Linked DNA regions of Homo sapiens. The protein of the gene in region 1 purifies or fractionates together with the protein of each later gene. This does not show direct contact. Each region holds a gene or a part of one and is shown in the gene's direction. Other genes may lie near its edges.

Region 1 (11,615 bases):
ACTCTCACACATGGTATTTAGAAATTCATTCTAAACGTTTTAGCTGACTCTTATTTCCCACACATATGGCATCATTTGTTTCTCTCCCAGGTAAGCAAATGCTCAGGTCCTGTTTTTCTTCCGAGGTGTCTCTCCCTAGATTTCCAGTTATTTGGTCGTTCTGCAATGTTGATTTTCTGATGGGCTCAAGAAAGCTACAGTTCTTTTTGCTGTAATCTTGGCAGTGATACTTTATCCAGTGTTCTACGTCTATGAGATAAAACTGGAAATTTCTAACTACTTTTATTTCTACCCATTGAACATTTTATTTTGAATACTGTATTTTTCAGCTCTAAAATATTCACTTCCTATCTATGTCTTTCTTCATTATGGCCTTGTTTTTCCTTAAATTCTTGAGCATATGTATAGTAACTGTTTGAAATTCTTTGCCTGGTAATTCCATCATTTCTGTCATATTATTTCTATTGATCAATTTTTTTCCTGGTATTGGTCATATATTCCTGCTCCTTCACTTCAGTAGCGATTTTTGATTGGATGCTGGACTTTTATGAATTTTACTTTATTGAGTGCCGAATGTGGTTGTCTTAAAAAATATTGGACTTTGTTCTGGCAGGCCATTAAATTACCTGCTGATCAGCATACTCCCTTCCAGGATTGTTCTAAAACTCTGTTAGGAGATTCTGGAGTAACCTTTACTCTAGCTTTCTGGTTGTTCCCGATGTACTTTGTCTGTCCTCGTGGAGTTTCACCCTACAGCAACATATTCAAGGTGACTCCATGCAGATTTCCAGAACTCTTTCTCTGCCTAGCTCCCTCATCTCCAGTACTGCAACCCACAAATGTCCCACACCTGCACTACAAATTGTCATCCCTGTGGCCCCAAATCATTAAGACCACTGTGTTCTGCCTGAGTTTCCCCTTCCTGCCTCACAATCCAGAAAGCTGGGTTATCATAAGGCCCACCTCGTTTGCTGCCATTCTCTCAGGGATCATGGTCCTCGACTGCCTGTCTTCCAATGTCTGAAAAGAGTGTTTCCAAATCTGTCCAGTTTTCAAGTTGTTTGTGATGTGAGAAGCCTGTCTCAGTCCTCCATGATGGCCAGAGGTGGAAGTTTCTCTTTCGCTGCTTTTTATATCTTCTCTTTTTTGGTTATTCAAATTTTTAGTTTCACCACGTCTAGATGTGGATTTTTTTATTTTTTTTTTTACCCCATGCTTGTTATGCTTCCTGTATCTTTGGATTTACGTCTTTCACTAATTCTTAAAAATCATGTGAAATCATCTTTTCGAATATTGCCTCTCCTCTATACTTTTTATTCTCTCCTTCTGGAACCTCACTTTTACAGTGTTTTAGTCCTTCAGGCTGCTGTAATGAAATAACACAGTCTGTGTGGCTTATAAACAGAATTTCTTTCTCACAGTTCTGGAGGTGGGGAAGTCCAAGATCAAGGTGCCAGCAGATTCAGTGTCTGGTGAAGGCCCATTCCTCATAGGTGGCCATCTTTTCACTCTAACCTCACACAGCGGGAGGGGCAAGGCAGCTCTTGGGGGTTTCTTTATGAGGACACTCATCTCATTCATCTATTCACCTCCAAAGGCCTCACCTCCAAATACTGTCACATTTGGGGATTAGGTTTCAACATATGAATTTGGGGTGGAGGAATACAAACATTCAAGCTATATCACGTGTTTGGCATCCTCATTCCAGTCTCTCAATTGCTAAACCTCTCATTCACATCCTTCATCTCCTTTCCTCTTTGTGTTATATTCTGCGCAATTTTTTTGTCTACCCTTAATTCCCAAATTCTCTCAATTCTGTCTCATCTGTGTAATTTTGCCTTTGGGTTTTTTAACAACTGTATTTTGAACAGTGTTTGATTTTTTTTCCTCTTTAATTTGTTTGAAGCATTACAAACCCGTAGAAAGTTTAAGAGTAAAATTAAACTTTTTTTGTGAATCATGTGTGACCAAGTTGCTGAGCAGATGCCCCATCAGCCACAAGCACTGTATGTAGTATGTATTTACCACAAAGGCTTTCTTCCTACATGCAGCGTATTAATCACTGAAATCGGGAAATTAACTTGGTGTGTTACTGCCATCTAACCTTCAGACCCTATCAATTTTTGCAAATTGTCCCAATAAGAGTGAAAAGATCATTTATTGCATTTAGTTGTGATGTCTTTTTCTTCTTCAGTCTGAAATGTTTTCTTAGTGTTTCCTTGACTTTCGTAATTAGATCTTTGAAGATTACATGCCAATTATTTTCTGGAATGTCTCTCAATTTGAGTTTGTCCTTTTTTCTTCAGAATTAGATTTGGTTAGGTATCTTTGACAGGATGATCACAGAAGTGATGCTGTACTCTTCTTATTGTATTATATCAGGTGGCAACTTTTATTTATCCCATTATTGAAAATGTTTACTTTGATCAGTTAGGGTGGTTTTAGAGGCTTTTCCACTGAAAATTATTCTTTTCTACTATGTAATTAATATATATTTTCTAGGAAGGAACACCTTAACTATTTTGATATACTGTTTCCATATAAAGTTCAATTTATTATTTATCAATATTTGTATAGACACAAGCTTTCCTGTTTTTAGTCTATTGCTCTCATTATTTAATTTGATGCTCATCTCATCTCTGCTTTGGCCCATTAAATCTCACTTCTGTGTCATTTTGACATATCTTTATCACTATTCAAGCACTTCCTTGATTTTTGGAGGGAACAAGATGTTCCAGGCTGATCTTGCGAATTCCATGCCCCAGTTCTGAAATCAGTTGTTTTTCCAAGTAATACTGGTTCCTTTTGAAAAGTGGTATTTAGAAACCAAGGTCTAGGTGCTGGGTGTGCTCAAGATGGGCTGCTGTCTCCAGGGCACTCTTGGTGGACAGTTAGGAAACACACACACATACACACACACACAGTTATACAAAAACAGGCATACACATATTTGCATATACATTTATTCCTACAATGAAATACAATTATCAAAAACCATTAGTGCAATCACTCTGATTCTTTATTCTAGTGACACACCATAGGGTTAATTTTAGCTTTTTCTTCATATAAGTAACTCCCTATTTGCACAGTGTGAAACTTAGCTCCATCACCCTTCATATATTTATATATCTGATCAATTTCCCTGTTCATAACCAACATGCCATCTCTGTTGTCACCTTCTTCTGTGTAGGTCCCCTTATAACTGGAGTTCTGATTCCCTGTGCTCTGCCTCCCACCTGTGTGAAAACTCTCACGATGCTTGTGTTCTGCCGTTCTAGTCTACTTATCTTTGGCAACTCCCACCTCATCCCAGTAGGGCCCTGAATTCCACCTTGGGCCCATCCCTCAGGATCATGTCCTAGTAACCCGGTCATGTGTGACTCCCCATGTTGAACTGCCCCCATGGGTGGATGCCCTCCTCACTTTGCCAATCCACAGGACATACTTTGAAACCTGTGGTGCTCTCACATGCCTTGCTGGGCAGCCCTCTCACAGGGTATGAGCTGGAACACATGCTTGGGCTCCGATCCTCTAGCCTGGCCAGCACATCCCTCCCCACCTCTCCCAGCCCTGCTATACCACTAGTGCTGCCTAATGGCTTTAGGACATTGTTCAGATACAACAAAAAGGAAGCACTCTCTGGCTACTCTAGACAGTCTCTTCTTGATTTTTTTCATCCTTTATTTCCTTAAACCTTTCAAATATTGTCCTTTATGGTAATTTTAATAACTAAAGTCCCTAGGAGGTCAATCTAGTTTGTATTTTTCACTTACAGTGGTTTCTTCCCTCGTGCATTTTGTGATCTTTGATTTTAAGTCCATAGTTGGTTGACCTTAAACTGTGAAGAATATAAGGGGATAATTTGAGAAAGCCCTTCCAGGATCTCTGGCCTAATTTGGGAGCCTGGGGTTTAGATTCCCTCCTCAAAAGCTGTCCAAGAATTTGCTTCCTATTAGCAGTGCAAATGGGGATGACTTCCCCAGTGAAACCCTGAACTTCCTGTACACTACTAACTGCTCAGGCTTTGGATCTGTTTTTTTTTTGTTTGTTTGTTTTGCTTAAGAGATGGGGTTCTGTTTGGTCACCCAGACTGGAGTGCAGTGGTGCTATTACAGCTCATTATAACCTCGAACTCCTGGACTCAGATGATCCTTCCGCCTCAGCCTCCAGAGTAGTTATGCAAAGCAGTTAAAGGTATGCACCACCATGCTTGGCTATTTTTATTTTTATTTTTTGTAGAAATGGGGTTTTGCCATGTTGCCCATGCTGCTCTTGAAATCCTTGGCTCAAGTGATAACCACCTGCTTAGCCTCCCAATGCATTGGGATTACAGGTGTGAGCCACTGTGCCCAGCGTTTTGCTTCCTTCTTGATCCTTTGGAAACATTATTCCTAAAACCTAGCAATACAACAAAAAATGTTTTCCACAGAATCTGTTTTGTTGGAGGAGGGGAACAGAATTTCCAGTTCATCATTACTGAGACGAGAAAGACTTCTATATTCGCTTTATTTACAAAAAAGCAAAGCTTGCTTTTAAGATTTTCAGTAGGATATGTATGAAACTGCAGCGCTCACTAGGTAGTCTTCTTAGGTTTAACCCCTGACACTCATATAATGCCACGCCTGGCAGCAGCTCCACTTTGGAGGACTGAGGAGAAGAAACACACTTCACTGCGGTACAGGCATGGAAGAGCTCTACTCTTTGGCCCAAATGCAATTCAGGAGCAAACCATTATGGGTGGGGGCTTGGCTTGGAAGTCCTTGACCGGCGGGAAACCAGTTCCCTGAGTTTGTCTTTTAGATTCCCACATTCAGTTAAGACAGTAACAGAGGCTAAAGGTATGGCTTCCCACTAGGTGTTTTAAGATTATTCAGTACTTTCAAGCCAGAGGCAGTCTACATGTCAGAGGTCATTTTTACCATGAGCAATGTTTTATTTATTTATTTGGAGATGGAGTTTCACTCTTGTCACCTAGGCTGGAGTGTAGTGGTGTGATCTCGGCTCACTGCAACCTCCACCTCCTGAGTTCAAGTGATTCTTGTGCCTCAGCCTCCCAGGTAGCTGGGATTACATGCATGTGCCACCACACCCAGCTAATTTTTGTATTTTTAGTAGGGATGGGGTTTTGCCATGTGGGCCAGGCTGGTCTTGAACTCCTGACCTCAGGTGATCCACCTGTCTTGGCCTCCCAAAGTGTTGGGATTACAGGCGTGAGCCACCGCGCCTGGCCTACAACCAATGTTGTTTTATACCACAATGAACACTCTGCCTTCATAAGGTTTCTATGACAAGTTAAAGTTAACACAAAGTGAAGTTTGTTCATAGATAAGGACAAGGGGTTGGTTAAATCTTTACTCACAGTAATTTACCAAGAACTTCAAATACTGGGTGTCCACGCTAAAAAATTTTTCCAGTGGGTGTTTGATCAAAAAATTTTATAGACTCTTGTTCTAGAGAAATTCAGTTTCAAGTGGCTTATGAGATTGTTTCATCTGTTAATTTGGTTTTTTGTGGAATTCTTCTGAAGATCACCACTGAATTATCCTGAAAAATATTTTCTGAGTTAGGCATGCCATCCTCCACAGTTCAAAAAATAATGAAAGGTGATAAAGAGTTCAAGCCATTTAAATATGGATGTATTAACGTGCTTTTTAATAGAGACCATTTTTCAATGAGTTGCTTGCAAAACATTTTTTTTGGGGAGTGAGTTCTCACAGTTGAATAATTTTTTTGTTTTTTTTTGAGACAGAATCTCGCTCTGTCACCCAGGCTGGATTGCCGTGGCGCAATCTCGGCTCACTGCAACCTCCGCCTCCTCGATTCAAGCAATTCTCCTGCCTCAGCCTCCTGAGTAGCTGGGATTACAGGCGCGTGCCACCACGCCCAACTAATTTTTGTATTTTTAGTAGAGACGGGGTTTCACCATGTTGGTCAGGCTGGTCTCAAACTCCTGACCTCGTGATCCACCCACCTCAGCCTCCCAAAGTGGTGGGATTACAGGCGTGAGCCACCGCGCCCGGCCAGCATTTTATTATACGTACCGTTTTATCATCTCTTCACCCATCCACCAATGCATCTCCTGTATGGACGTCTTGATTGTTAACTCACGGCACTGGACCTCCAGTTTCATGCCTCTCCACATTGCAGGGTCCTCTACGTTGTTGTATCAGTCACCTTTCTAAAATACAAATCTTACCATGTAAATTGTTTCTAAAATCTTTCAATAGACCCCATAGACTCAGAAAAACGTCCCAAAGTCCGGAATCCTGGCCCCTGCCTACCTTTCCAGTTTCATTGCTGGGTCAGAACGCCTCACCTAAGCCCCACATTGACCGATATGGAATCAATGTTTACAGCCGGTGTGTACTTAATCAACCCCCTTCCCCGACTGCGACCACTCAGATGCGCCTTCCCGGGCCCCACACCCCAAAACCCCTGAGCCCTTTCGTCCACAGCTGTCTGACCACCCAGCACCCTTTCCTTTATGTCAAGTATGAGGATTTCGTTTCTTAACCTTTCTCACTGCTCAAAATGCAAACTCAGACATGAGTGCCGGGCGCTATCCGTCCTGCTCACGTCTTGTTCTCAGGGCCGCAAGGCGCAGGGGCAGTAAGGGCCGAGAGCCCATCAGGGTCCGGCGCTGCCCGCTGCCCAGCCGGGCGCGGAGAAGGGGACGGGGGTCCGGGGTCGCGGGTCCGGAGGGTCTCGGGTTGTAGGAAGTGAGGGCTCGCGGGCGCCGCACGAGTGCGCGTGCACGTTAGCCCGGCGCGCGCGGCACTCATCTCACCTCGCGGAAGCACCTGCCGGAGCTGTGTGCACCCTTTCCTGCCCTCAACACAAGCCGTCGGCGTTCACTACTGTAGCTCATTCAGACCCCACTCTCCAACCTACTGTCCAGGCACAGAAACGACAGTTAAGGTTCCCCCGGACCGTACGCTGGACCTTGCCTCCCCGGCTCCTAACGGGAGACGGGCTGCCGTAAAGCTTCGCTTTGCCGACTGCTGCAAAGCGCCTTACGACTGAACCCGGAATCGACCTATGGCCAGCAGTCGTCCCCGCCCTGCTTCAAACATTTGGGTTTCAGGAGCCGGGCGGAGGTGACTGCCGCGTGTTTGCGTTGCACGCCCACCGCCCGAAACACGGCGGCGGCCTCAGGGCTGCTGCGGCCTCGGCGGGGGCAGGCCCCGGCGCCCGCCCGCCTCCCGGCCTCCATCATCCCAGGGTGCACCGCGGCGGGCGCGGGCGCGCGGCCATGTTGCGGTAGTTTGTTGTTTTCTTCCTGCGGAGGCGAAGGGCCAGCTGTGGACCGCGAAGCGCCCGGCTTCGCCTCTGCCTCCTGCAGCCCCCTCCCTTCTCTGTCCTCCGTCACCCGTACCCGGGCCCGGACCAGGCACGTCGGCCCACCAGCTGGCTTGGTGGGGGAGGCTGAAGGCCGGGCCCCGCGAGTGCCATGGCGGCCGCCCTGGGAGCGAGCGGAGGAGCAGGCGCCGGAGGTACGTGAGGCAGCCGGACTCTGGGGGCCAGGACCGCGCCGCGGTGGGCGGGGGTGTAGGCCGGGGGGCCTCCCCGCTTAGGAGAGGACGAGGCTCTCCCCGGCTCCGACTCTCTTTGTGTTCGGCCTATTCCGTTTTCTCCCTCGCCTTCCCTCGCTATTGTCATTCTCCCTTTCTCGCTCCTCCTCTCCGCTGTGCAGATCGTACTTACCTGTGAACTTCTGTGTGTCCTCTACTTTGCAAGGCTGCCTAAGTGTCAGGCCCATCTCTGGCGTTGGCGGGCATTAAGTGCCGAAGCCGGCCTGGTGTCCTATGGGTAGGAGAGCGCCCCCCCCACCCCCCGAGACAGTGTCACTTAGGGAGAGCGGGGCAGGTCGCTGTAGGGTGGGTGTTTAAGATTGTGGGGCCATCCTGACAGATTTAGATTGATTTGAAGCCCATTACAAAAACATAACGAAAAGATTCACCTGTGTGAAGGAATGTGCGACAGTAGGCCAGTTTGGAAAGTGAGATTTCTTGAGAAAGTCTCAATAAATCCCTGTTTTAAATTAACTTATTTGTTGTCTAATAACCTGTTAGTGTTTTATGTGCGTCTTCCAAAAGTGAAAACGTGACACAAAAGGTTTAGATACTGAGTCAGTTCCTTTGGATAGTTTTTCTTGTTTGCAAGCATAAACAGTATTGATGAAACACCTATCTCTAAAAAATTGTAGGTAAATTACTTTCAGGTAAAATTACATATCACTGGGGGTTTTAAAAACGTGGAGAGATACTTGAAAGTGACTTTTTAAGTGATTATTTTGAAAACTTTGAAAAGATGGTAAAATATGGATAACAAAAGCATTTGGGATTAGTTCTTACCATTGAAACGTTGAAAAGCCAGTCTAGTGTATACTCGAGAAGTATTTTTTAGTAAATGCTAGCAGATGGTTACGTTGTTATCATCCTGTTTAGGAATTTTGGCCCAACTGTCAAAACGTTTGCCTGACAAAATGGAAAAACAAAAAAGACTAAGTGTAGGAATGTCGCTTCTGGCAATTTGGTTTGCTATATGCCACTTTTCTTTCAGTTTAAATACATGATGTTTGCGTGTTACATCTGAGACTAATTAAAATTTTAAAATGTATAGTTCACCTATCTTTCTGGGGGTCAGAATTACTTGTTTTATAGCATTCCCAGTGTAACCTGGGAACTCTTGGGTGAACACTCTTTTCATTAGAAAGACTAAGGTGTTATTTGTATTTTTTCTCTTTTCTTTCAGTAGTGTACAGTGGAGTTTTCTAGAGGCTGAATAACATGTGAAGACGTTATGCTGATGGCTAATGGAATATATGCTTGTGTATTCTTTTACGTTTCTCATTTTAAATTTCTAAAATAGTAATATCACTGAATGTAATCCAGATAAACAGGCATTTTTGGGTCTTCAATAATTTTGAGGTCAGAAGTTTTGAGAATTGCTATTTTAGAAGAATAAGTAGGCTTTATTCATGATGCTTTGGAGTTTTTCCTTCCATTTTGTCACAAGTGCCAAAGTTTCCTTTGCTCTTCATACCAAACTCCTTGCCAAGATTTGTGAGTTCTGTATGACTTGGTCCCTGCCTACCCCACCAGCATGTTGTGTGATTGCTTCCTTTATCCTGGAAGTTCATCGCATGGACTGCTCCTGTACCCGCTCTTGCCAGGGCTGACTCCTGATCCAGTGGATCTCACGCTTTTAAGGGAGGCTTTCCTTGAGAATTCATTGTATCTGAGGAATGTATGTCCGTTGCTCTTGTGCCTCTCTTGTCTTCATTCTCTAGCACCTTTGTTTGTTTTCTTCAGAACGTTTATCTTAATTTGTAATTTTCTTCAGTTTTTACTTGTTTTTTAAATCTGCCTCCCACAGTAGCCTGTAAACCTCATGAGGACAAAAATGCTACCTGTTTTACCATGCGTTCCACGTGTTCCTGGCACATAGCATGTGTTCAACAAACATTTGGTGAATGAATTAAAGGATGAAATGTTTTCTTTACGAATAGGAAATAATATAATTGTATGCTAAGTTATGTTAGTCATTTCCACGTGATTTACCTGTGTAACTGATTAAATCATGTTAGCTTGGAGAAATATTTACATTGGTAATACCTTATTGAGCTATCGATAGCTTATTTGGCAGCTCAGTTTAGCATATTGTCTAGCACAGTGACTTTCAAACTTCTTAAAATGGCAGCCACAGAAATGTGATTGACATTGTGATTTAGTACATACATAAAAGTTAAAAAAAATTTCATGAACAATACTGGTCCATACTATGCCATGCACTCTAATGTTTTCTATTTCATTACAGTAAAATGCTGGTTGTGACCTGGATTAATTTCACAACCTACAAAATGTTCGAGATTGTCAGTTTGAAAATCACTGGTCTCTTGTATAGTAAGTGGTTAGTATTTATTGAATAAAATAGGTCTTGGCTATCCACAATCTGGATAGCCAAAATGGGTACCACAAAGTGTCTATAGGAGTGTTTGCTTATTTTTTACTTTTTTTTTTGAGACAGGGTCTTGCTGTGTTGCCCAGACTGGAGTGCAGTCGTATAATCATGGCTAATTGCAGCCTTGGACTCCTGGGCTCAGTTGATTCTCCCACTTCAGCCTCCTGAGTATCTGGGACTGCAGGTGTGCACCAGCACGCCTGGCTAATTTTTGTATTTTTTGTGGAGACAGGGTTTTGCCAAGGTGCCCAGGCAGGAACTCGGGCTCAAGTGATCTGCCCGCCTCAGCCTCTCAGAGTGCAAGGATTACGTGAGCCACCATGCCTTGGCATGATACATTTCAAAGGAGTCATTTGGTATTGCAGCCAAGTAGTAAGGATAGAGAAATGGAATTGCTATCCTTACTAATAGCAGAGAGAATGACAACTGTTATTTATTGGAGACTGAAAACAAAAACATAAAGGCAAAAACATGGCATTTTGGGGAAGGAACAAATAGTTTAATGAGTTTCAAGATCTTCTAGTTCCAGTGCTTCCTTGTAAAATATAAAATAAAAAATCAGTACACAAATCGTAAAAAGCCTCCAACCTAGTGAGTGCGTTATCTCACTTAAGATTTACAACAGCATTCTTGGGCCTGAGCTAATCTGATTTTATAGGTGAGGTGAAAAAATGGGTGCTTGTAAATTTTTTGTTTTCTAGTCAATTCTTAGAAATAAAAAGTTTTAATGGGAAATTTCAAACACATCCAGTAGTAGAATAATGAACCCACATACCCATCACCTAGCATCAACATTCTGGCAATCTGTTTTCATCCCCCCACCTCCACTTTTGTATATTTCAAACAAATCCTAGGCTGGTAAAATTTTAGAGCAAGATACACTGCTGGGATGAGTTAAGACTTTAGATACTAAACCAGTTGCTTTAATTTACATTTGATAGTAAACTAGCCGAGAAAAGTTCAGCCACCTAGCTGTTAAGAAAGGGAAGTAGACTCGAATTCAGGTTTTTTGACTTCTAGTTCAGTGTTCCTTCCACTGTGTCAGTATGTAGTAAGGCAGGAAAGTATGAAGCATGGTGCAGAAGGTTTTCATTCGAAATTGTGAAAGTGAAACAAGTTTTAGTACTTCAACAGGTAAAATTTACCTGGTAGGAAATTTTTGGAGCATTTTAATCACTAATAGTGCTGATAAATGAGATGTTTTCATACTGATAATTATGTGTGTATTTAATTCTTTTTTTTTTTCCTTCAAGAAAATCTTTCATGCTTAATTTCTTAGCTTCAATCAAGAGAGTTTGAGGAGTCGGGAAAGAATAGCCTTTCTCATTTCAGCCATGAGTACTTTTAGCATTTCTTGTAGGGCAGGTGTACTAATGACAAAGTCCCTTAGGTCATACCTGGGGATATAATTTTTGAATGGCAGTTTGAAATATTTCATCCTATCACCTTCTGGCTTCCATCGTTTCTGATGAGAAATTGACTGTTAATCTTATGGAGGATCCTTTGTACATGACATGTCACTTCTCTCTTGGTGTATTCAAGATTCTCTTTGTCTTTGGCTTTTGATAGTGTGATCATAATGTGTTTCTGTGTGGGTCTCCAGATTTATCCTGCTTGGAGTGGTGAGCTTCTTGAATATGTAGGTTCATGTC
Region 2 (11,027 bases), on another chromosome or scaffold:
AGACGGAGGCTGAGAACACATCTCAAAAGCAGCCCACAGAGCAACCCCAGGCCATGGCAGTTGGCAAGGTCTCTGAAGAAACTGAGAAGACGCTGCCCAGTGGGAGCCCCAGGCCTGGCCAGTTGGAGCGGCCGACCAGCCTGGCCCTGGACAGCAGGGTCAGCCCACCGGCCCCTGGCAGCGCCCCCGAGACCCCCGAGGACAAGAGCAAACCATGTGGCAGCCCAAGGGTTCAGGAAAAGCCCGACAGCCCCGGAGGCTCCACGCAGATCCAGCGGTACCTGGACGCCGAGCGGCTGGCCAGCGCCGTGGAACTGTGGCGGGGCAAGAAGCTGGTGGCCGCCGCCAGCCCTAGTGCCATGCTCAGCCAGTCCCTGGACCTCAGCGACAGACACCGGGCCACAGGGGCCGCCCTCACGCCCACAGAGTAAGCCCCACACCCTCTTTTGTCTGAGCACCAGGGTCCAGGCCAGGTGGGCAAGGCCAGGGGCAGTGCCACACATCCTGGAAACACATGTGTAATCATGCCCAGTGGGTGTGCGGGAGGCCTGAGGGAGGAGGACGAGCAGGACATGCTAAAGACCAAGTGAAGACAAGGCAGCCAGCCAGGGCCCAGGCTGGGACCTGGAGCCTTGAGGGGTCCCCAGAAGGAGCTGTGCTCACACAGAAAGGCCCCGGCCTTGAGAGAGGTGGCTCCTCAGGTCAAGGTCCCTGCTGCCCAGAAATCTTGGGCCTTGGTTTCTAATTGGTGAACAGGACTAACTGCACTCCTCGGGGTTAAAGGAGCAGGGGCTTGCTCTGCCTGAGCCTTAGTAAGCCAAGTGTCAGTGACTTGGAATCTCCAGCTCCCTCTTCCAGAGGGCCTGCAGGACCAAAGGAAAGAAATCAGGGAGGAGACAGGCCTTCCCTGCAGCAGGCCTGCTCAGCCTCCCACTGCTCGTATTGGGGGCCAGATCATTCTCTGCGGTGGGGGCTGTCCTGTGTATCATAAGATGTTGAGCAGCATCCCTGGCCTCCACTTACCACATGCCAGGAGTATTATCGATAGATGATGGATGGAGGGAGGGAGGGAGAGAGAGAGAGAGGGAAGGATGTGTGGGTGGGTGGGTGGGTGGGTGGATGGATGGAAGATAGAGATGATGGAAGGATGGATGGAAGGAAGATAGAGATGATGGAGGGATGGATGGATGGAAAATGATAGAGGTGATGAATGGAAGACAGATATAGATGATGGATGGATGGAAGATACACATGATGGATGAAGGGATGGATAGATAGAAGACAGGTAGTAATGATGGATAGAGGCATGGATGGATGGATGATACAGATGATGGGGAGATGGATGGATAGAAGATGGGTAGAAATTAGGCTGGGCGCGATGGCTCATGCCTGTAATCCCAGCATTTTGGGAGGCCAAGAGTTTGAGAGGAGTTCGAGACCAGCCTGGCCAACATAGTGAAACCCTGTCTCTACTAAAAATACAAAAATTAGCTGGGCGTGGTGGCGCATGCTTGTAATCCCAGCTACTTGGGAGGCTGAGACAGGAGAATCGCTTGAACCTGGGAGGCAGAGGTTGCAGTGAGCCGAGATCAAGTCACTGCACTCCAGCCTGGATGACAGAGATGAGACTCCGTCTCAAAAAAAAAAAAAAAGTAGAGATTATGGATAGAAGGAAGATAGATGCCGACGATAGATGGATGGAAGGAAGATAGGTAGGTAGAGACAATGAATGGAGGGATGGAAGATAGGTAGAGATGATGGATGGCTGGGTGGGTGGATGGATGGATGGATGGACAGACAGAAGGATGGGTGGATGGCTGGAAGATAGAGATGGAGAGATGGAAGGAACATAGAGTTGATGGATGGAGGGATGGATAGATGATAGGTAGATTATGGATGGGAGGAAGATAGAGATGATGGAGGGACGGATGGGTAGAAGATAGGTAGAGCCGGGTTCGGGGGCTCACACCTATAATCCCAACACTTTGAGAGGCTGAGGCGGGTGGATCACCTGAGGTCAGGAGTTTGAGACCATCCTGGCCAACGTGGCGAAACCCCGTCTCTACTAAAAATACCAAAAATTAGCTGGATGTGTTGGCGCATGCCTCTAATCCCAGCTACTCGGGAGGCTGAGGCAGGAGAATCACTTGAACCTGGGAGGCAGAGGTTGCAGTGAGCCGAGATCACACCATTGCACTCCAGCCTGGGCAACAAGAGCAAAACTCCGTCTAAAAAAAAAAAAAAGATAGATAGAGATGACAGATGAAGAGATGGATGGAAGGCAGATAAAGAGGATGGATGGGTGGAAGATAGAGACAATGAGTCAATGAGTAGAAGGATGGATGGATGGATAGATAGATGATAGATAGATAGATAGATAGATAGATAGATAGATAGATAGATACATAGATAGATAGATGGGCAGGCAGGCAGGGTCTCTTGGGCTAAGGCAAGGTTTCCTACCCTCCACACTCAACATCTGGGGCTGGCTCACTCTCTGGGGTGGAGACCATTCTCTGTAGGGTATTGAGTAGCATCCCTGCCCTCCACTCACCAGAGGCCAGAAGTACCCACCCACTCCTTTCCCCCCACCCAAGTGGTGACAACCAAAACTGTCTCTAGACATTGCCAAGTGTCCCCTGGCAGGGGCAGAACTGCCCAAGTGAGAACCCAAGAACCACTAAGACAAGAAAATGCCACTGACTCACTCTAGTCAGTAAAAGCCATGTTTCTGTGATCTCGCAGGGAGAGGCGCACCTCCTTCTCCACGAGCGACGTCTCCAAGCTCCTCCCGTCCCTGGCCAAGGCTCAGGTAACAACAACACGGCAAAACCCCGTCTCCACTAAAAATACAAAAATCAGCCAGGCGTGGTGGCGCTTGCCTGTAACCCCAGCTACTCAGGAGGCTGAGGCGAGAGAATCGCTTGAACGCAGTGGCAGGGTAGAGGTTGTAGTGAGCCTCGCGAGACCAGGCCACTGCACTCCAGCCTGGGCAACTAGAGTGAGACTCCGTTTCAAAAAAAAAAAAAGCAGGAAGTGAGGTCGGTGGATGGAGTGTAAATGCCTGCAGGGGCTTCCCCATCTAGCACAGGACTGCCAGCCTTTCCTTAGCAGCCCCCCACTGCACCGTCTTGCAGCCTGCAGCAGAAACCACGGACGGAGAGCGAAGTGCGAAAAAGCCAGCTGTCCAGAAGAAGAAGCCAGGCGACGCATCCTCCCTCCCAGACGCAGGGCTGTCCCCGGGCTCTCAGGTCGACTCTAAGTAAGTATTGGGCTTGGGGGAAACTCAGGCCACCAGAGGATGCCCGGGGTCCCTGCCAGGGCCTCGCAGCAGTGTGGCCTCCTAAACCAATCACGTTTACAAAGCACGTTCGCAAAGGCATTTGCTCAGTAGAAACTGAATGGGGAGGCCAGGCAGTGGCTCACGCCTATAATCCCAGCACTTTGGGATGCCGAGACGGGTGGATCACTTGAGGTCAGGAGTTGGAGACCAACCAGGCCAACATGGTGAAACCCCATCTCTACTAAAAATACAAAAATTAGTTGGGCATGATGGCAGGCACCTATAATCCCAGCCACTCGGGAGGCTGAGGCAGGAGAATCGCTTGAACTCGGGAGGTGGAGGTTGCAGTGAGCTGAGATCATGCCACTGCACTCCAGCCTGGGTGACAGAGGGAGACTCCGTCTCAAAAAAAAAAAAAAAAAAAAAAAGCCTCTAGGGCAGGATCCTTCCTGCCTCTTCTGGCTTTTGGGGGCTCCAGGTGTTCCTTGGCTTGTGGCTCCATCACTCTAATCTCTGTCTCTATCGGCACTTGGCCTTCCCCTCAGTGTCTGTGTCTTCTGTCTTCTGTCCCTTAAAAGGACACGTGGCTGAATGGATGCAGTAGGTCACGCCTGTAATCTCAACACTTTGGGAGGCCAAGGTGGGATGATCACTTGAAGCCAGGAGTTCAAGATCAGCCTGGGCAGCGTGGCAAAATCTTGTCTCTGCAAAAAAATTTCAAAAATTAGCCAGGCAGGGCGGTGCATGCCTGTAGTCCCAGCTACTCAGGAGGCTGAAACAGGAGGATCCCTTGAGGCCAAGAGATCAAGCCTGCAGTGAACTGTGATCATACCACTGCACTCCAGCCTGGGCAAGAGAATGACACTCTGTCTCAAAAAAACTTTTTTTTTAACTTAAAAAGATAATGAGCTAGGCGCATGGCTTGTACCTATAATCCCAACAACTCAGGAGGCTGAGGTGAGAGGATCATGCTCGTGAGGCCAGGAGTTTGAGGCTGTAGCGAGCTATGATCACACCACTGCACTCCAGACTGAGTCACACCCCAACTGGAACAAAAAGAAAAGAAAATGGAGTCCCCCTGTGGCTTCTGTTTGGTATCCTTCTTTCTTCACATAACTCCCCTGCCAGTACAAAGAAAGGGCTATTGCTCTTTATAAGATAATCCTGTGTTGTTTTTTTGTTTGTTTTTTTTTTGAGACAGAATCTTGCTCTGTTGCCCAGTCTGGCAGTCTGGAGTGCAATGGCTCAATCTCCGCTCACTGCAGCCTCCACCTCTCAGGCTCAAGCGATTCTCCTGCCTCAGCCTCCCAAGTAGCTGGGAGTACAGGTGTGCACCACCATGCCCAGCTAATTTTTTTTTCTTTTTTTTTCTTTTTTTTTTTTTTTGTATTTTTGGTACAGAAGGGGTTTCGCTATGTTGCCCAGCCTGGTCTCAAACTCCTGGGCTCAGCTGATCCACCCACCTCAGCCTGCCAAAGTGCTGAGATTACATAGGCGTGAGCCACCATACCCAGCCAGATCCATTTTTGTTTTTGTTTTTTGTTTTTTTTTTTGAGACAGAGTCTCACTCTGTCACCCAGGCTGGAGTGCAATGGTGCGATCTCAGCTCACTGCAACCTGCAACCTCCACCTCCTGGGTTCAAGCAATTCTCCTGCCTCAACCTCCCAAGTAGCTGGGACTACAGGAACCCACCATCACGCCCTGCTATTTTTTTGTATTTGTAATAGAGACAGGGTTTTGCCATGTTGGCCAGGCTGGTCTCAAACTCCTGACCTCAGATGATCCACCCGCCTGGATCTCCCAAAGTGCTGGGATTACAGGCATAAGCCACCATGCCAGGCCAGATCCTTTTTTGAGTCAGGCATTGATAGAGCATTTGCCATGTGTCCAGTCACAGGGAGGCTGGGCCTCACGTCCATTTTCATTTCAGACTTAAAAGAAGCCACGTACTTTCTCCTGCAGATCCACGTTTAAGAGGCTTTTTCTGCATAAAACCAAGGATAAAAAATACAGCCTGGAGGGCGCAGAGGAGCTGGAGAATGCAGTGTCCGGGCACGTGGTGCTGGAAGCCACCACCATGAAGAAGGGCCTGGAAGGTTGGTAGCCTGCAGCCTCAGGGACAGACAGTAGAGCCACCAGTGCCCCTGGGGACATTCACTGTCCCCAAACGGGGCCTTGAGTTGGCTGTGGGCCAAGCCCTAGGCACAGAGCCAGGGGTTTCTGGCCCTGGATAAAGGCGTGCCATAGGAGGTCCCCTGCATCCTCCCCCTGAACCCACCCTCACCGGCTGCTTCCTGTCCCCCCTCAGCCCCCTCCGGACAGCAGCATCGCCACGCTGCAGGTGAGAAGCGCACCAAGGAACCAGGAGGCAAAGGGAAGAAGAACCGAAATGTCAAGATTGGGAAGATCACAGTGTCAGAGAAGTGGCGGGAATCGGTGTTCCGCCAGATCACCAACGCCAATGAGCTCAAGTACCTGGACGAGTTCCTGCTCAACAAGGTGGGATCACTAGGCGAGGGCCAGGGGCATGAGGCCCGGTCCCCAGGGGAACCATCACAGCCAGGCATTGTTTTCTGAAACACACAACACAGGGTTTAGCAGGTCAAGAATACAAAGTCCAGGCTCAGGCCGGGGACAGTGGTTCATGTTTGTCATCCCAGCACTCTGGGAGGCTGAGACAGGAGAATCACTTGGGCCCAGCAGTTCAAAACCAGCCTGGGCAACAGAGAGACCCCATCTCTACAAAAGGTTTAAATATTAGCTGGAGTGGTGGTGCACACCTGTAGTCCCAGCTCCTGGGGGCTGAGGCAGGAAGATCGCTTGAGCCCAAGAGGTCGAGGCACCACAAGCCACGATCGCAGCACTGCACTCCAGCCTGGGTGACAGAGCAAGACCCTGGCTCAAAAAAAATAATAATGCATATTTGGTCTCAAAGCAAAGATTGATGAAGCACTGTGTGCAACAGAAGTGGAGGCGAACAAGCTGTGGCTGCCCTCAGGAGGGTTATACCCCGTGGGGGTGGGGGGTGGGCAATCCTGCAGCAGATAGAGCTACATTTGGGAGCTGCACAGCGGGCACAGGGGGCCGATGGGGACACAGAAGGATCAGGAAACCCTGCTAGGAGTAGAGGCATCTTGAAATTACCAGGCCATTCCAGGCATCCCCATCCTAAGGTATGGCTGGGTGTTGAGCCCCTGTGTGGGGCAGCAGGAAGGGCCTGAACTGACCTGTAGCTCTCATCTAGGGGGGATTCTGTCCGCCAGGGAACACTGGCAATGTCTGGGGACATTGGGGTTATCACAGCCTCAGGGGAGGGCGCTGTTGGCATCTGGTGGGTGGAGGCCAGGGATGCTGCTTAACCTGCTGTGGTACACAGGGCAGGCCCCAATGTGGAGAGTAGTCCTGCCCTCAATGTCAGTGGCTTTAACTCTGGGTTGACAAGATGAGAGACCAGGCTTGGCCAGAGGGACTGGATTTTATCCCGAGAGCCTAGGGGATGACTTAAGAGAGGATAGAAGTGACCCCTTGGGCACCTCCTCGGGTACGCAGGTCCCCAGGCCTGAGGCACGCAGGGTCAGTTCCTCTCCCCTTCCAGATAAATGACCTCCGTTCCCAGAAGACGCCCATTGAGAGCTTGTTTATCGAAGCCACCGAGAAGTTCAGGAGCAACATCAAAACGATGTACTCTGTCCCGGTATGTGGCGGCCCGGCCTTCAGCCTTTCCCATACCCTGCTCAGACCCGTCATTCCCATCCGCCCCTTGCCCAGGCCTGCAGGGTGACGCCTAGCATTCCTACAGAACGGGAAGATCCACGTGGGCTACAAGGATCTGATGGAGAACTACCAGATCGTCGTCAGCAACCTGGCCACTGAGCGTGGCCAGAAGGACACCAACCTGGTCCTCAACCTCTTCCAGTCACTGCTAGATGAGTTCACCCGTGGCTACACCAAGAACGACTTCGAGCCAGTGAAGGTGGGCAGCCCAGCATGCCACGCCCACCTGTGACATGCCACGCCTACCCATGCCTCGCCATCCTTAGCCACGCCCACCCATGCCTCACCATGCTTATGCCACACCCACCCATGCCCTGCCCATACCACAGCCACTGTGCCATGACTTGATCCACTTATGCCATGCTTACCTGTGCCTCACCATGATCACTTATGCCACACCCACCTGACATGCCACACCCACCCATGCCATGCCACGCCTATGACATGCAACATGCTATGCCTACCCATCCCTTGCCATGATTACATGCCATGCCCACCTATACCATGCCGTGCCCATTTGTGCCACACCTACCTCCTGGTGGGGAGCCCTGCACCCTCCCCAACAGAGCCTCACTTCTGGGTCTGGGGTGTCTGAATGGGGGCGTTAGGGACAATGATGCCACTCCAGGTGAGGGAGGGTTCAGGGTACCCACACGCCTGAGTTATGGGGTGCCAGGGGTGGGTTGGGGCTCTTCCCAGGGGGGCCCCCGCCAACCTCCTCCTTGTGTTCCTCACAGCAGAGCAAAGCTCAGAAGAAGAAGCGGAAGCAGGAGCGTGCTGTGAGTAGGCTGCACATAGATGAGAGTCCGAGCAGGCGAACATTGGCAGGAGCATGCACGTGTGTGTCAGTGTCAATGTGCGCATGGGCCCGTCTGCACGCGTATGTGTGCGTGGACACGTGTGAGTGTGTTTTTCCCCCGGCATATACGGAGCCGTAGTCTTGAATAAGTCACCCCTGAGATCCCATGGGTCGTCATCCACCAGTGGCTGGGGAGGGCTGCCTTCCCCTTTCCCTGCCCAGCGCCTTCCTCTGGCCTCACAGGTCCAGGAGCACAACGGGCACGTGTTCGCCAGCTACCAGGTTAGCATCCCGCAGTCGTGCGAGCAGTGCCTCTCCTATATCTGGCTCATGGACAAGGCCCTGCTCTGCAGCGGTGAGTGGCTCCCCCACCAGGCCCCAAAACCCTCCATGTCCCCCACCACCCCTCACTGCTCAAGAGGTCTTCAGGGCCAGGCGGGGTGGCTCACACCTGTAATCCCAGCACTTTGGGAGGCCGAGGCAGGTGGATAACGAGGTCAGGAGTTTGAGACCAGCCTGGCCAAGATGGTGAAACCTCATCACTACTAAAAATACAAAAATTATCTGGGCACAGTAGTGGGCACCTGTAATCCCAGCTACTCGGGAGGCTGAGGCAGGAGAATCACTTGAACCTGGGAGGCGAAGGTTGCAGTGAGTCGAGATCGCGCCACTGCACCCTAACCTGGGCAACAGAGCAAGACTCTGTCTCAAAAAAAAAAAAAAAAAGGTCTTCACCCCAGCCCAGCCACCAGGTCAGATCTTTCTGGACCGTTGTCCCAGCCATATCCCACCCCCTCAAACCGTCCACCATCACCGGAGGAGCAGAGCCCAATTCTCAGCTGGCCCCAAGGCCCCCAGTAGCCAGCACCCACCCACATCTGCAGCCTCCTCTCCTCGTGGGCCCTGCCTCTCTGTCTCTGTACACGCTGCTCCACCGCCTGAACCATCGGCCCCTCCTTCCCCAGGCTCCTCACGGTCCCTCCCCTGTAGGCCAGACTCAGCCCCAGGGGACCCTAAGAGACAGGGCCCAGGAATGACCCAGCTGATCCATGCTCACACAGCTTTGATATGGCCAAGTCAGTACCCAAGCCCAGGCAGCCTCCAGAGGCCCAGCAGGGTCAAGAGGGCCTCTCCTACATGTGTTTTTCTGCCAGAACCATTTGGGCCAGGGTCTTTTCAGCCCAGAAGGCAGCCCCACCACCCCACATCTGTCCAACAGTCAGTTGTCATGGTCCTGAGATAAGGATGCGGGACCCAGGCCCGTCCCCTCACCTGATTCCATCCTTGCCAGGTGCCAGACACTCTCTTCTTTAGCGTAACCAGTGTACCCTCTGCAAGGCGTCAGCTGGGTGGCCTGGGATTCAGTGTGGTTGGAAGAAGGAAAAGCAGCATTGTCTTTGCCCCGTGACATCTTCGTCCCAAGTCCCCAAGGCCACCTCCTGGCAGGACCTTTAGACCTTTAGTTCTGCCAGTAGGTGGCCTTGGGGACTTGGGGCAAGGATGTCACAGGTCCCCACAAACACCTGCTCATGGTTCCGCTAGCCAGGCTGGGTCTGAGGCCATGAATGGCCACCTTGGAGCTATGAAGTTTGTCCACACAGCCTCCTCTCTCAGGAGTCAGGGCACAGGTTCCTGCAGTGTGGGTTTAGAAGTTGGCAGGCCAGGCACAGTGGCTCACACCTGTAATCCCAGCACTTTGGGAGGCTGGGGCGGGAGGGTCGCTTGAACTCAGGAGTTCTAAATCAACCTGGGCAACATGGCAAGACCCCATCTATACAAAAAAAAATACAGAAATTAGCCAGGCACGGTGGTGCACGCCTGTAGTGCCAGCTACTTGGGAGGATCACCTGGGCCTGGGAGGTCAAGGCTCCAGTGAGCTATGATAGTGCCACTGCACTCTAGCCTGGGTGACAGAGTGAGACCCTGTCTCAAAAAGAAAAAGAGAAACCAAAAAGAAGGCAATCCAGGCCAGGTGCAGTGGCTTACGCCTCTAATCCCAACACTTTGGGAGGCCGAGGTGGGCAGATCACCTGAGGTCGGTAGTTCGAGACCAGCCTGACCAGCATGGAGAAACCCTGTCGCTACTAAAAATACAAAATTAGCCAGGCGTGGTGGCGCACACCTGTAATCCCAGCTACTCGGGAGGCCGAGGCAGGAGAATCACTTGAACCCGGGAGGCGGAGGTTGCAGTGAGCCGAGATCACGCCATTGCGCTCTAGCCTGAGAACAAGAGTGAGACTCCATCTCAAAAAAAAAAAAAAAAGAAGGCAATTGGCGGCCCCCGGCCAGCTGGGTGGGTGGCTGCAGGAATCTGGGGTCCCCAGCACCCTCTGTGACTCCCACCCTGTGGACCTCCTAGTGTGCAAGATGACCTGCCACAAGAAGTGCGTGCACAAGATTCAGAGCCACTGCTCCTACACCTACGGGAGGAAGGTGAGTGTACGAGGCCTGGAACTTTCTACAATGACACTCCACTCACGGCCAGGTGCACCAGGAGGTGGTGCTTGATGTGAGGGCCAAGCGAAGCATTGAGCAGCCAGTAGGGGGCGGCTGTGGCCTCTGGTTCTGCAGAACACACCATTGTCCCCGGTTCTGTACAAACTCCTTGAGGCCCTCAGGCAGGGCCCAGGCCTGTGTGTGTGTCTCAGCTCCCCCAGCCCTGCTCATCCTTGCTCCTGAGAGAGTCCTGAGCCATGCAGAGGGAGGCCCCCCAACTCTGTGCATAAGGTTGGGGTCCTGGGTGCTGGGGGTGCAGCAAGAGTCAGGGTCTACTTCTGTGAGGTGGCTGTGGGGGCTAGGTTATAGCTCTCTCCCCACGAAGGACCACCCATGCCTTGGGTGGCCTACAAAGGAAGCCCCTGCCCAGTGGCTGCCATGCTGGCCTTGACTTCTGCAGCCCCACACCCCCAACAACCACGCAGAAGGAGACAGGGAGGGACAGAACAGCAGAGGAAGCCCTGAGGGCCTTGTGCGGGACCAGGAGGCAGAGGCCCCCAGAGACAGCTGGAGAGGAAGACAGCCAGGCCCAGACCTGACCCCCAACCCCGGCACTGCAGGGCGAGCCAGGCGTTGAGCCTGGCCACTTCGGCGTGTGCGTAGACAGCCTGACCAGCGACAAGGCCTCGGTGCCCATCGTGCTGGAGAAGCTCCTGGAACACGTGGAGATGCAC

What was found.
Region 2: the proteins of RBM33 (region 1) and MYO9B purify together in Homo sapiens (affinity purification with mass spectrometry; 2 studies listed by BioGRID and IntAct, with this or other methods). This does not show direct contact.

The regions. Positions count from the first base shown.
Region 1 is NC_000007.14:155,637,427-155,649,041, forward strand, and holds the start of RBM33 (RNA-binding protein 33), read left to right. Parts: upstream 1-7,234; 5' UTR 7,235-7,450; coding exon 7,451-7,493; intron 7,494-11,615. UniProt on the Homo sapiens protein: RNA reader protein, which recognizes and binds specific RNAs, thereby regulating RNA metabolic processes, such as mRNA export, mRNA stability and/or translation.
Region 2 is NC_000019.10:17,195,047-17,206,073, forward strand, and holds part of MYO9B (unconventional myosin-IXb), read left to right. Parts: coding exon 1-427; intron 428-2,745; coding exon 2,746-2,812; intron 2,813-3,137; coding exon 3,138-3,262; intron 3,263-5,246; coding exon 5,247-5,380; intron 5,381-5,592; coding exon 5,593-5,783; intron 5,784-6,879; coding exon 6,880-6,978; intron 6,979-7,083; coding exon 7,084-7,257; intron 7,258-7,795; coding exon 7,796-7,837; intron 7,838-8,100; coding exon 8,101-8,212; intron 8,213-10,216; coding exon 10,217-10,290; intron 10,291-10,913; coding exon 10,914-11,027. UniProt on the Homo sapiens protein: Myosins are actin-based motor molecules with ATPase activity. Unconventional myosins serve in intracellular movements. Binds actin with high affinity both in the absence and presence of ATP and its mechanochemical activity is inhibited by calcium ions.